Homo sapiens: one gene and its partner. The protein of the gene in region 1 purifies or fractionates together with the protein of each later gene. This does not show direct contact. Each region holds a gene or a part of one and is shown in the gene's direction. Other genes may lie near its edges.

The links.
Region 2: the proteins of KCNIP3 (region 1) and KCND2 purify together in Homo sapiens (affinity purification with western blotting; 2 studies listed by BioGRID). This does not show direct contact.

Annotation. Positions count from the first base shown.
Region 1 is NC_000002.12:95,370,329-95,377,350, forward strand, and holds part of KCNIP3 (calsenilin), read left to right. Parts: intron 1-3,967; coding exon 3,968-4,092; intron 4,093-4,519; coding exon 4,520-4,589; intron 4,590-4,809; coding exon 4,810-4,880; intron 4,881-7,022. UniProt on the Homo sapiens protein: Calcium-dependent transcriptional repressor that binds to the DRE element of genes including PDYN and FOS. Affinity for DNA is reduced upon binding to calcium and enhanced by binding to magnesium. Seems to be involved in nociception.
Region 2 is NC_000007.14:120,268,660-120,276,190, forward strand, and holds the start of KCND2 (A-type voltage-gated potassium channel KCND2), read left to right. Parts: upstream 1-4,515; 5' UTR 4,516-5,973; coding exon 5,974-7,088; intron 7,089-7,531. UniProt on the Homo sapiens protein: Voltage-gated potassium channel that mediates transmembrane potassium transport in excitable membranes, primarily in the brain. Mediates the major part of the dendritic A-type current I(SA) in brain neurons.

The DNA of each region.
Region 1 (7,022 bases):
AGTAGGTTTGTTTTGACTTTGTCATTGGGTCTAGAGCATGCGCTTACTCAAGGATGTGGTTCACAGTCCTAAAGCATAGCTTTTCTGGGGTTTCAGCCAACACCTGAGATGCTTAGGGAGGTATCTCCACTCTGGCTGAGCCAGTACTCCAGTTTTCCCATCACTGCATGAATTCTCACATGTCCTTTCAAGTACCTTTTCCTGTGCTTATTGGCCAGTTGTATATCTTTTTTTGTGACACGTCCTTGTCTTTTGCCTGTTTACAAAATCGAGTTATTAGTCTTATGCTGATTTGTAGAAGTTAATTATGTATTCTGGAAATGAGTCCTTTGTCAGATACATATACTGGAGATATGTTTTTCCAGCCTGTGACTTGAGTTTCTTAATGACTTTATTATAAGGTTTGTGGCTATGCTTATATTTGTCATTGATTTTTTTTTCTTTTTTTTTGAGACGAAGTTTTGCTCTGTCAACAGGCTGGAGTGCAGTGGTGTGATCTCTGCTCACTGCAATCTCCAACCTCCTGGGCTCAAGCGATTCTCATGCCCCAGCCTCCTGAGTAGCTAGGATTACAGGTGTGCACCACCACACCTGGCTAACTTTTTTTTTTTTGTATTTTTAGTAGAGACAGGGTTTCGCCATGTTGGCCAGGCTGGTCTTGAACTCCTGACCTCAAGTGATCCACCTGCCTCGGCCTCCCAAAGTGCTGGGATTATAGGCGTGAGCCACTGCACCCAGCCTGTCATTGATTTCTACTCTTGTTTTTATTATGTTCTTTCTTCTATTTACTTTGAATTTAATTTGCTCTGCATTTTTTAGATTCTGACTCTTAGATCTAGAAGCTTATGTCATTGCTTTTACACCTATCTTCTTTTCTAATAAAGGAATTGAAAGCAATAAATTTCCCTGTCAGCCCAGCTTTACCTGCATCCAGCAAATTTTGATATGCTCTGTTTTTTTAATCATTCAATTCAAAATATCTCAAAATGTGATCACCTTGCAGTTTATTCTCTGACCTATGAGCTAATTAGAAATGTATTGTTTATTTCCAAATACTTGAGATTTTCTAAATATCTTGTCCTGAATTTTAACTTAGTACCATTGTGGTAAGAGTCTGTGTTCCAGCATCTGATATATATTGGTAACCTCAGGATATGCTCTTGAAAAGAATGTGTATCTACAATTATACAGTGTTCTATAAATATTAATTAGGTCAAATTGGTTGATGGTGTTTTTCAAACCTTTTATTTCGTCACTTGTCATACCATTTACTGGAAAGGGGTGCTAAAATCTTCCAATTATGATTGTGACTTTTTTGTTTCTCTCTTTAGTTCTGAATTTTTTGTTTTAGGTATTTTAAAGCTCTGTTACTAGGTGATGTCTGTTTTAGATTATTCTGCCTTCTTGATGAATTAATCCTTGTATCATTATAAAACATCCAGCTTTCTTAATGTTTTTCCATTCTTTTATTTTAAATCTTTTTTTTTTTTTTTTGAGATGGAGTCTCACTCTGTCACCCAGGCTGGAGTGTAATGGCGCGATCTTGGCTCACTGCAACCTTCGCCTCCTGGATTGAAGCGATTCTCCTGCCTCAGCCTCCTGAGTAGCTGGGATTACAGGTGCCCGCCACTGCACCCGGCTCATTTTTGTATTTTTAGTAGAGATGGGGTTTCACCATGTTGGCCAGGCTGGTCTTGAGCGCCTGACCTCAGGTGATCCACCCACCTCAGCCTCCCAAAGTGTTGGGGTTACAGGAGTGAGCCACAGCACCCAGCCTTAATATATCTTTGTATTAGGAGTATCCCTCTTGTAAACAGGATATAATTGGATCTTGCTTTTCCAGTCTGAAAAGTCTGCCTCTTAATCAAAGGATTCTTACCATCCATCCATCCATCCATCCATCCACGCTGCTGTGTGTACATCTGCTCCACGGCACAGTTCTCCCCAGTGTGCAGCCTCCATATTTTGCCTACCCATCCTGCCTGCCATAAACCCCTGAGTTGCCTCCAACTCTCCTGCCAAAAATGCTGTTGCTGTGAGCATCCTTGTGCAGGCCCCTGGGCAGGGGAAGAGTCTATGTGGGATGCTTGCCTGGCGTGGGATGCTGGTTTACAGGGTTTGCCTATACTTAATATGACTAAGGATTCGAGATACTACAGTATGTCTATATGGTGATGGGAATGATCCAGAAGAGGGGAAAAGGTGATGAGGAAAGAGTGGGAGACTTGGCTGGCACCGCTTGCCTGAGTAGGTGAGAGGGATCGGGACCCACTGCACAAGTGGCAGGTTTGCCTTTGCTGGGAGCAGGCACAGTTCAGCCATGGAGCAGGCAGGCGTGCAGACGTCTGGGCCAGGTGCAGGCAGGTGGGTAGGTGTGGGGTGAGGGCTTGGGGAAGTTTTCCTCCATGGCTTGTGTCTTCTCAGTGAAGTGGGAAGCAACCTGAGGGTAAGGATGGGAGAGGAGATACTGGAAACTTAAGGGGAAGGATGGTATGAAATAGTTATCTTGGAGATGGGGAGCATGTGTGGACCAAAGAAACAGCCCAATTGCTGAGCAGCTTTCAGGGTGCTCTTGTGGTTAGTGTGAGTGGGCAGTGCAGGCTGTCTTTCCCACCACGCTCTCGGGAGAGGCCTGGGTATGGAGCAAGCTCAGCACAGGACCAGTGCCCAGCACCATGCCAGGCACCACGGGCACAGGATGAGCTGTGCAGGACAGCTGCCCCTGAAGAGCTCACTGTGCAGTGGGAGAGGCAGCAGCCAGCACCAGAGTACCAGCCATGAGGGTGATTATGGATCACCACCATTCTGTGTGGCCCAGGGGAGACAGGGCGACGGTGCAGCGGGGCCCATGAGTCCTGGGTCTGTGGGAAGGTGGCGCTCTGTAATTATGCGAGGATGCTGCTCAGCAAGGTGTGGGCACTCAGTGCTGTTTCAGCCCTAGCTTTATTTTGCATTGTAAAAGTGATGCATGTCACACCAAAAGAAATTAGGAAAATGTTTTTTAAAATCATAAATAAAAAAGTAAAAATCACCTGAAATTGCACCTCCCCCTCAAATGTAGCCATGGTTAGTTAACAAGTTTGTGGTTTTTTTTTTTTTTTTTTTTTTTTTTGAGATGCAGTCTTGCTCTGTCACCCAGGCTGGAGTTCAGTGGCGCGATCGCGGCTCACTGCAAGCTCCGCCTCCCCGGTTCACACCATTCTCCTGCCTCAGCCTCCCGAGTAGCTGGGACTACAGGCGCCCGCCACCATGCCTGGCTAATTTTTTGTATTTTTATTAGAGACGGGGTTTCACCGTGTTAGCCAGGATGGTCTCGATCTCCTGACCTCGTGATCTGCCTCAGCCTCCCAAAGTGCTGGGATTACAGGTGTGAGTCACCGCACCCTGCCAAGTTTGTGTATTGTTTTTAAAGGACAGGTCTGATCCCTGCCCCCACAGCCCTGGAGGTTTAGCCTCCTAACCAGATGTGAATAACACCCCTCTGCCAACTGTAGCTGAACAGCATCGCCTTAGGCCTTGAGGGCCAAGGGAGGCACCCTCTCCATTCCTGGGGAAAGTCAGGGAGGGCCACATGGAGGAAGTGGTCTAGGAATTGGATACTGAAGTTCAAGTGTCCCTCATGCCTGTCTTGCTGTCTTTCCCCCTCCTATATCCCCTTGTTCAGTGCCTCTTTAGGACAAGAGCAGCTCCCACCTTGTCCCACTGTGCGGCTGACAGGGGGGCACACTGCAGGGGCTGCGATGGGGAGGCCCGCCCTGTGGGGGGCAGGAAAGCAGAGGCACAGCTCTTGTGTGGGCCACTCAGTCACACCCCCTCTGTGCAGTGCACAGCCTGTGTGGCTGTCCATGGTAGTCATGCAAAGAGAGTTCCTCCACCTGCTATTTTGGCCCATGCCCTGGCCACACTGGAGCAAGATGGAGGAGCAGGGCTACAGGCCTTACACTCTCTGGTCTGTGTCCCACTCCAGATAGCAGCGACAGTGAGCTGGAGCTGTCCACGGTGCGCCACCAGCCAGAGGGGCTGGACCAGCTGCAGGCCCAGACCAAGTTCACCAAGAAGGAGCTGCAGTCTCTCTACAGGGGCTTTAAGAATGTGAGTGTTCCCCATTCCCCCGGGAGAGGCCTTGGAGACCCTGGCTCAGGGAGACCTGGAAACTTCTCCATGCCACAGTAAATATCCCAGGGGCCTTTAAGGGGCTTATGTGTTGTGGGAAAGCTGTGTGGCGGGGGCAGGCTCCGGAATGGGCATCGCTGAGGCCGCCATGCTCCTCCCTCCGTGTCTTTGCTGCTGGTACAGAGGAGGAGGGTATGGGGGAGCAGTCACCCCCTTCCTATTCACCCCTCCTCCCTCTCACCCCACCTCTACCCAGGCTTTCCACAACCCAGGCCAGGGGGCCCCAGCAGTGCCACAGGCAGCAGGCAGCCCCCAAGGGGGTGGAGAGAGGCCAGCCAGGCACCATGCAGAGTCGGGCTTGGAGCTGGGGGTGGCCGAGGGCTGAGGGGGTGCCTTCCTGCTGCAGGAGTGTCCCACGGGCCTGGTGGACGAAGACACCTTCAAACTCATTTACGCGCAGTTCTTCCCTCAGGGAGGTGAGTCTGAGGCAGGGCAGCCCTGCTGTGTCCCAGTGTGGAGGGAGGGGACCCTCCTGCTGCCCCTTGCATCCTGGAGGCTTGGTGCTGCCCCTGTCCCGTGGGAAACAGGGACTCCAAGCCAGGACGCAGTTAGCACCCTCAGCTGGGGTTGCCTGGGGTGGGAGATGAGCCGCCAGGCAGCCCCGACACACCCCAGCCTCTTCCTTGCCCTCCCCAGATGCCACCACCTATGCACACTTCCTCTTCAACGCCTTTGATGCGGACGGGAACGGGGCCATCCACTTTGAGGTAGGTCCTCGCGGATTCCTCCCACGTGTCCTGCCCCTGTGGTTGCAGGAGTGAATCCTTACCCTGGCGTCACTGTCAGGGCTGTCGAGAGAGCCATGGTCCTGGGTGGGAAGGATCTTGTGAGTCACCCTGGGAATGAGTGGATGTGGCTGGCCCTGGGCCAGTGAGCTCTGGGGTGTTTGACTTTGCTGGGCCGGCACCACGTTCTCAGCCTTTTCTTCCATTTGAGAGTTTGCATCCAGCTCTGCCTGGTCAAGGGAGCCCCCGAGACACACACGGGTGGTAGTGACCCAGCGGGAATTTGCATTTTCAAAGGGATCAGGGCTTAACTCAGAGGCCTGGTTTGCTGACGGTGGGATGTGAGACCTCCATTTTCAGAATTTACTCCTTGTTACCCAGAAAATAGGCCAAAAATATCTAGAAAACATCCCAGCCGGAGCAGCCTCCAGGGCTCATCCCAGCTGGGCACTGAGAGCAAAGCCTGGTGTTACCCACTGGCGGAAGGAGAAGCCTGTCCCCCACCCAGACAGCTTCCCTGTGGGGTCCTGGCCTGGGCTCCTCCCCAGCCCCGCCACACAGGATCATTGGAGAGAGGCCCCATCTGCGGAGCCCAAGCCTCTAAAAATAGCTGCAGGCGAAAAGCTGAAACCGCTTTGGGGAGGAAAACCTTTCTGAGAGCCGGCTTGATCGATACCCCGACAGCTTGGCTTCCACTGGGCTAAGGGCAGCTAACAGGAAAGCACAGAGAAGCACATGGGGCCAGAAGGCCCCGGCCACACGGGGTAATAATAACTTGTCGATAAGCTGCGCGGGTTATTTTTATGCCGCAAGCCCGCCAGGCACACTGACGCTCCCCGCCTGCCCTGTGACCACAGGACCCCTCGACTCTGAGCCACACTCTGAGGGCTCTGCACATAGAAGCAGACCGTGTTTTCAAATCTTGTTTTCAGATTTGAAATACCAACCCCACAGCACACAGAAAACACCCGGTTAGCATGGAGGAGCCTCAGGGAGGACTCAAGGTCCTTTCCCTGCCCCTCTCTCCTGGGGTGCCCTTTAAGAGGCACCTGACACTTCAGGCAGTAAAGCATCTTTAGGAAACGGTGTAAGGGAGCAGGCGGGGTGCGAGTGGTTTTTCTTGTTCAGGAATGAGATGACTGAGAGGCTCGGCAGAGCCCCTGCTCATGGCAGTGCTCAGGAAGGTCACAGTCGCCCCTCACCTCCTGTGGCCATCACCCTCGCTGTCCTGAGGGACAGCCTTGTGGCCCTTTAAGGAAGCAGGTGGCAGCCCTCTGGGCTGGGTCTGTCAGTGGCTGTGCTGTGGCCCCTCTGCTGGGCACCTTCTCAGAAGATCACTCATCCCTGGCATCTTCCTGGGCCTTCTGCAGCTTCTCTGCACGTGAAACGAAGTCCTCTGGCTTCACGCAGGTACATTTACCTTGAGGAACTTCTCGATTTCAAAGTGTTCTGCTCTGGGAAGGAGGAGGGCACAAGCCCCCATGGCCCCATCCTGGGAGCCCCACAGACTGGGATCCCAGTGGTCACAAAGGATCCTGCCAGGGACGGAGGCACCAAATCTAGTCTGGAGAACACCGGGCCATCCTCACTGCCAGCCCTCAGAGCCTCCTACGTGCGTCTGTAATGCAAGGCAACCCTGCATGACACTGTCTGCAATGATTCTGTCCCTTTCTGTATATTCTTAGAGACAAGATGCATATTAGTTACAGTTTACTGATATGGTAAAAGGTAATACCCTCCCTCCGCTCACCAAAAAGAATAACCAAAAAGACCAAATCGGAAAACACACAGACCTCAACAGAGCCAAGCGGGCGATGCCATCCCCACACCCCACCTTGGAGTGGCTCCTGCTCCCATCCCCACGGACCTTCTGGGATTTGCCAGCAGCAGGGAGCCCCAGGTGAGCAGCGCCACACACAGATTTGCTGAACGCTCTGGCCACCAGGGCCTTTCTCGTGCAACTCATCTGGCTTGCCAGGACGTGCAGAGCTTCCAAAACGATTCCGTAGACTGTTGGGGCCTCTTCAGTGCCCAGGATCAAGTCAGGCCCAGTTTGGAAGTGGCAGCCAGGCAGGCATCTGGAGGTGCGGCCGCTTCTCTGTTACCTCCCCCGACAGTAAACTG
Region 2 (7,531 bases), on another chromosome or scaffold:
GGTTCCATAAGATTATAATGGACTATTGTGAATGGAATTGCATTCTTGATTTGACTCTCAGCTTGGATGTTAGTGATGTGTAGAAATGCTACTAACTTTTGTACATTGATTTTGTATCCTGAAACTTTGCTGAAGTTGTTCACAGAGACAGGAGCATTTGGGCAGACTATGGGGTTTTCTAGGTATGAAATCATATAGTTTTCAAAGAGAAGTAGTTTAATTTCCTCTCTTTCTATTTAGATCCCTTTTATTTCTTTCTCTTGCTTGATTGCCATGATCACTGTGGAAAGCAGTCTGGAGATTCTCAAAGAATTTCAAATAGAACTACCATTCAACCCAGCAATCTCATTACTGGATACATATCCAAAGGAATAGAAATTGTTCTGCCCTAGAGACACTCGCACATGTACGTTCATCACAGCACTATTCATAATATCAAAGACATGACACCAACCTAGATGCCCATCAACAGTGGACTAGATAAAGTAAATGTAGCACATACATAGTATGGAATATTGTGCAGCCAATAAAAAAAACAAATCATGTCCTTTGCAGCCACATGGATGGAGCTGGAGACCACTATCCTAAGTGAATTAACATAGAAACAGAAAAACAAATATCACATGTTCTCCCTGCTAAGTGGGAGCTAAACATTGAGCACATATGAACACGAAGAAGGAAACAGTGGACACCGGGGCTTACTTGAGGGTGGAGGGTAGAAGGAGGGGACTATTGAGTATTATGCTGATTACCTGCATGACAAAATTATCTGCACACCAAACCCCTAAAGCACGCAATTTACCCATGTAACAAAACTGCACATGGACCCCTTGAACCTAAAATAAAAGTTGGAAAGGAAAAAAACAAAAAGATTATAAGGGAGTTGAAAAATTCCTACTGCCTAGGGATGCGCAGCCATTGTAATGTCCTTGCCTAATGCGTTACTCAGGTGTCTGTGAGGATGCTGCTGTGCTGCCAGTCTTGCACAAGTACAGCACATACAATTATGTACAATATATAATACTTGATCATGATAATAAACGATGTTACTGGTTTATATATTTAGTATACTATACTTTTAATCATTATTTTTTAGTGTACTCCTTCTACTTATAAAAGAAAGCTAACTGTAAAACAGCCTGAAGCAGGCTCTTTCAAGAGGTATTCCAGAAGAAGGCATTGGTATGCCTTGGTATTCCATGCATGTTACTGTCCCTGAAGACAGAATGAAGAACGTTCAGTAGGAAAAGATGTGGATATGGAAAACAGTAATACTGATAATCCTGCCCCTGTGTAGGTCTGTGCCAGTGTAATTGTGTCCTAGCTTTTAACAAAACATTCAAAAAGTTTTTAAAAAGTGCAAAAATACCCAGCACTTTGGGAGGCCGAGGAGGGTGGATCACAAGGTCTAGATCAAGACCATCCTTGCTAGCACGATGAAACCCCGTCTCTACTAAAAATACAAAAAATTAGCCAGGCGTGGTGGCAGGTGCTTGTAGTCCCAGCTACTCGGGAGGCTGTGGCAGGAGAAGGGCGTGAAACCGGGAGGCAGAGCTTGCAGTGAGCTGAGATCGCACCACTGCAGTCCAGCCTGGGCGACACTCTGTCTCAAAACAAAACAAAACAAAAAAAGTACAAAAATAGAAGAAAACTTACAGAATAAGGATATAAAGAAAATATTTTTTTGTACAGCTGTATAATGTGTTGTGTTTCAAGCTAAGTGTTATTACAAAAGAGTCAAAAAGTTAAAAATTGAAGTTTTTAAAGTAAAAAAAGATAGTAAGCTAAGGTTAATTTATTATTGAAGGAAAAATAAGATTTTAAAAATAAATTTAGCATAGCCTAAATATACAGTGTTTATAAAGTCTACAGAAGTGTACAGTAATGTGCTATGCCTTCACATTCATTCACCACTTACTCACTGATCACCCAGAGAAACTTCCAGTTCTGTAAGCTCCATTCATAGGAAGTGCCAAATAAAGGTGTACCGTTCTTAAAAATATTTTATACTGTATTTTTACTGCAACTTTTCTGTGTATATATATGTTTAGAGGTTCAAATACTTGCCACTGTGTTACAAATTGCTTACAGTGTTCAGTACAGTAACATGATGGCAGGTTTGTAGTCTAGGAGCAATAGGCTGTACCATATAGCATAGGTGTGTAGTAGGCTATACCACCTAAGTTTGTGTAAGTACGCTCTATGATATTCAGACAGTGATGAAATCTCCTAAAGACACATTTCTCAGAATGTATCCCTGTCATTAAGCAATACATAACTATGGAAAGTATCTAAGGGAATTCCAAATACGGGCTGGATAAAATGAATTGCATTAGCATTATGCATTACAATAAAAAAGAACCAATATTGAGTACACTTCATGTGCTAAGTATTTCACTGGTGTTCAGAAGTATGATCCTGTTTCATCTTCACGACAGGCCTGAAAAGTTAAATTTCATTATCTATAATTTCTAATCATAGAAGTAATTTGCCAAATGAAACAAAGCCAGTAAGTAATTTCTTAAGCAAGATTTTGAATTTAGATGTGTTTAAGTTCTCAGCCCACATTCTTTCCACTATATCAAGAAGCTTGTTGAAGATGCAGGAGGGCAGATCCCAGTACCTTCTTAAAAACTGTACATATTATGTTCTTGCTTCTTTGGGGCTTTTGTGAGTTAAGCTCCTACTTTTACATTTGTAAGCATTCAGTTTCCCACACAGTTTTAAAGGCTCTATTTAGGTTCCTCGCCCCATCTTTACAGGAAAGCATGCCATTATTGGCATTGATTAAATATTCATGGCGCTCCACCCTCTGGATTCCATGCCCAGCACCTGTCATAGTGCCACCTTACTGTTTGGACTAACGAGGGGTTGGTTTTCTTATATTAATTGGTAGTAAGCCCCTCATTTCCATTTTCCAGGTAACATGCTTGTGTGTTTGTTTTCAGGTATGCAGGCTATATAGATTGGTTAACAAGCATCTTTCACTTAAACAAATAGATAAAGAGCAGGTGTCTTCAGTTCCTTGTCCTCAAACTTAAATGGTGCATTAGCTCTGACTTCATTACTACTGACACAGGATTCCTTAAATCTCTATTCTGTAAACAAATAAACAAACAAAAAATACCCTTTTATCTCTACAGAAAATCCTGTACATGATAAGGATATTTTAAATTCTCTGGTTATTTTCTATACTCATTTTTTAGTTTATATATTTTCTTTGACGTATCCCATTTCAAATTTTCAAGGTTGACACATCATGCCTGTAATCTCTAGGGCTTAAAAGTCAATTTCCGTAAAGTACAACACACAGTCCACTTATTTTACAAACCAAGGGCAGTCAAACCAAGCCATGAAAAGTAATTTTTAGGTAGAAATTAGGCTACTATTCTTCATCAATACAGATGAAGCCTCATTATTGCCAAAGATCTTAATTACTATGATGATGATGATTCAGTAATCTAGATTTAATTTTCAAAGGAATTTCAAAAGGAAACTCTCCACATCTCATCCCACAACTATCCAAATGCAGACTCAAGCCTAAGTAGTATATGTCACATAAACACAAAAAAGGTGGGTGGCAGCGAAGGGGTTTGGGGATGTTTATGTGATCTGACTCTCTGTTGGACCAGTTAATTTTGATCCTTCACCTTCCTAAAGCATCCAAACCTTAGGTGCAGATTTAACTTCTCGCCATCCACGCCATCTAGTGGCTTGTATGTGTTACGTTTGGTTTTAAGGATGATTCCTAATGACTCGGGGGCGGGGTACGCGAAAAACAAAAAGGTTGGTAGCGACAATTTTCCTGTGTCTCTCTACCTCAGTAACCCCTCATACGAACACCTTTAACTCTTTTAACTATTTTAAATATGCGCAGTGATGCGCAGAGAGGATGAAGGGGACGCAAACTTTCAGAGACGCACGCCCCTTGACGATGACATTTAGAAAAGGGCTCCACATCCCTGTTATTCGTAAAGGACGGGAAAAGGAGTTGTGTCAAGACCTCGATCGAGGAGAGTCTCTGATTTTTTGGCAAGTTGGACAGATGGCATATCAATCCCTGCAACGTTAACAATCTGGTTTTGAAAATAAATAAAAACAGAAAGAGGAAATGCACTTAAAAATTCCGCGTCGGAGCTTTGCGGGTCTTGCCTTCCAGTCGCCCCCAGAAGACAACCAATTCCTGCGCATTCCGCTCCGCTCACCCTCCTTCCCAGCTTCTCTCGCTCTCTTTCCCCCCATTTTCCCACGCTCGCCTTGAACCGGGACTCGAGAGGCAGAAGCAAGGCACGGGTCCCCTTTCTCCTCTCCTCCACCAAACCACCGCAGCCCAGCACGTGAAGCTTCCCTTTGTTCATCCGAGGCTCGCTTTTCTCCCCAGCAGATCCACCTGGATGCTCTCCCTCGGTGACATTTTGCGCCGGGGTTGGTGGGTGGCTGGGGTGGAGCGAGAGGAGCCCGAGGGGGCGGGGGCGGAGAAAGGTCAAGCCGAGGGAAAGGCAGGAGACGCCTTTCCTAACCTGCGTGGCGGGGCGTGCGCGCGGTTATTTATTTATTTTCTCCTTATTTATTGATCGCACTAGCAGAGCAGCGCGGGGAGCCCGGGGAGATGCAGGACCACCCACTGGCGGGGAAGCAGCTAGCAGCCCTCCCGCGCCCCCGCGCTGCCGAGCGCCTTCTGCCTCCGCGCTCGGACGAGAGCCCGTGCCGGCCCCGGCCCCGGCCCCACCGCGCCAACGCCGCCCGCCCGGCCGCCCCGCAGCCCCGCCGCCCCGCAGCCCCGCACCGCGCTGGCCAGGCTCCCGCGACAGTGGCCCCGCAGTAAGTTGGCAGGAGCGAGTCCCCTCCGTTCTCGCCTCCCCCGCACCTTTTGAACTTGTTGCTGCTGCTCTGCTCGCCTGCGCCTGGCTTTTGGAAGGTGAAAAGGAGGAGGGAGGCACGGAGGGATGGGGGAAGGGAAAGAAGAGCTCGCTTGAGCTTTATTTATGCTCTCTCGGCGCATCGGATTCGGCTGCTCGCGAGCTGCTTTCTCTCCTCTTCCCTTTCCGGGTGCACGGCGAGGAGAAAGTCTCTATGCAACTAAGCCCCGGCGCGCACTTGGCCAGGTATGTACCGCGGGAGCGGCGCGTTCTGCGCGGAAGCAGATGCTGCTGCCGCCACGGCGGCGGCGGCTGCCAGCTCCTGAGCTCTGTAACTGTCACACTGCACCTGAGCTGAACTTGAAAAGAGAGTGAAGGGGCGATTGGGCGAACGCTTTTGGCAGACACAGAGGGTGTTTGTAGACGTGGGGGAGGAGAATCTCTATTAACGCCCCCCACCGTAACCACTGCACATCACCTCCATCTCTGCAAATACAGCCCGAGGAGTAGAGGCAGCAGCAGCTGGACCCCCAAAGAGAGACGTGGGGCAGCGGCTGTGACCGCATCTCCTGAGCTACAACAACAGGTCGCCTTTTTGAGACTCCTTTGGCGGGAAGGGCTACTTGGAAAGGAAGGTTTGAAAGAGTGAGAAGGGTAGGTGTAAGGGTTCCCTAATTCGTCGAAAGAATTCTATTGGGTGACTCTCGTTCGTCTTCTCTATCCTACACTCCACATACTGACCCTATATTATCCAGACTGTGCCGGGGAGAAATCAAAAACACCTGTTTGAAGAAACGGCTGCACCTGTGTGCTTATTTGTGCCAGAGGGTGGCCTAGCCCACCTGCAGGAAGAGATTTGGCTGGGTTCTGTTGAGGGTGATTGTTAGGACGTTGTATTTTGTTGCCATTATTCCAAATACCTGTCTTGGAGGGAAAGTTGCCCTTCTGAGAACTGTGACTTTACCAGGAGCCCTATCTTGGAATAAGAGTTACACCTCTGGACCACGTTTCTCACTAGTACTTTGCTTGACTGGAGGAAGTGGGTGACTTTTGGCTGCTTCGGTGACCCATTGTAGACGCCTCGTTACCCTTCTTCCTTCCGCTTCAAGTAATCATGGCGGCGGGGGTGGCAGCGTGGCTGCCTTTTGCAAGGGCAGCGGCTATCGGGTGGATGCCTGTGGCCTCGGGGCCTATGCCGGCTCCCCCGAGGCAGGAGAGGAAAAGGACCCAAGATGCTCTCATTGTGCTGAATGTGAGTGGCACCCGCTTCCAGACGTGGCAGGACACCCTGGAACGTTACCCAGACACTCTACTGGGCAGTTCTGAGAGGGACTTTTTCTACCACCCAGAAACTCAGCAGTATTTCTTTGACCGTGACCCAGACATCTTCCGCCACATCCTGAATTTCTACCGCACTGGGAAGCTCCACTATCCTCGCCACGAGTGCATCTCTGCTTACGATGAAGAACTGGCCTTCTTTGGCCTCATCCCGGAAATCATCGGCGACTGCTGTTATGAGGAGTACAAGGATCGCAGGCGAGAGAACGCCGAGCGCCTGCAGGACGACGCGGATACCGACACCGCTGGGGAGAGCGCCTTGCCCACCATGACTGCAAGGCAGAGGGTCTGGAGGGCCTTCGAGAACCCCCACACCAGCACGATGGCCCTGGTGTTCTACTATGTCACGGGGTTTTTCATTGCCGTCTCTGTCATCGCGAATGTGGTGGAAACAGTGCCGTGCGGATCAAGCCCAGGTCACATTAAAGAACTGCCCTGTGGAGAGCGGTATGCTGTGGCCTTCTTCTGCTTGGACACGGCCTGCGTCATGATCTTCACAGTTGAGTATTTGCTTCGCCTGGCTGCAGCGCCTAGTCGTTACCGTTTTGTGCGTAGTGTCATGAGTATCATCGACGTGGTGGCCATCCTGCCTTATTACATTGGGCTGGTGATGACAGACAATGAGGACGTCAGCGGAGCCTTTGTCACACTCCGAGTCTTCCGGGTCTTCAGGATCTTTAAGTTTTCCCGCCACTCTCAAGGCCTGCGCATCCTGGGGTACACACTGAAGAGTTGTGCCTCAGAATTGGGCTTCTTGCTTTTCTCGCTCACCATGGCTATCATCATCTTCGCTACAGTTATGTTCTACGCAGAGAAGGGGTCTTCGGCTAGCAAGTTCACCAGCATCCCTGCAGCCTTCTGGTATACCATCGTCACCATGACAACACTAGGGTAGGTGCCATAATGGGAAATGGGATGGAGGTTGGGTATGGGTGAGGCGATTGTGGACCCATCGAGGTTACATGGTAACTCCGGGGAAATCATTTGTTTTCTTTCCTGAGTTTAGGAAAGCATTATCTAAATGGTTTGGCAAAACTCTTTTCATCTGTGAAATGGGTATAATACACACGTTGAAGTATTAAGGCATTGCTGGCAAATGTTGATGCCTGAAAGTGATAAAGATACAAAGAAATTTTAGAATTCCTGAATATATGAAAGTAGTAGCAATATTTATATTAATATATAAAAATATGACAATGAAAAACAAAATCTATGCCCTAATAAAGACACAAATATATACAATGTATATTGAAATGTCTATAAAGTGGTTCAATGCATTTAAATGAAAAGTTTCCAGGTATACTTGAACTATTATTTTCATATGAATAGATACT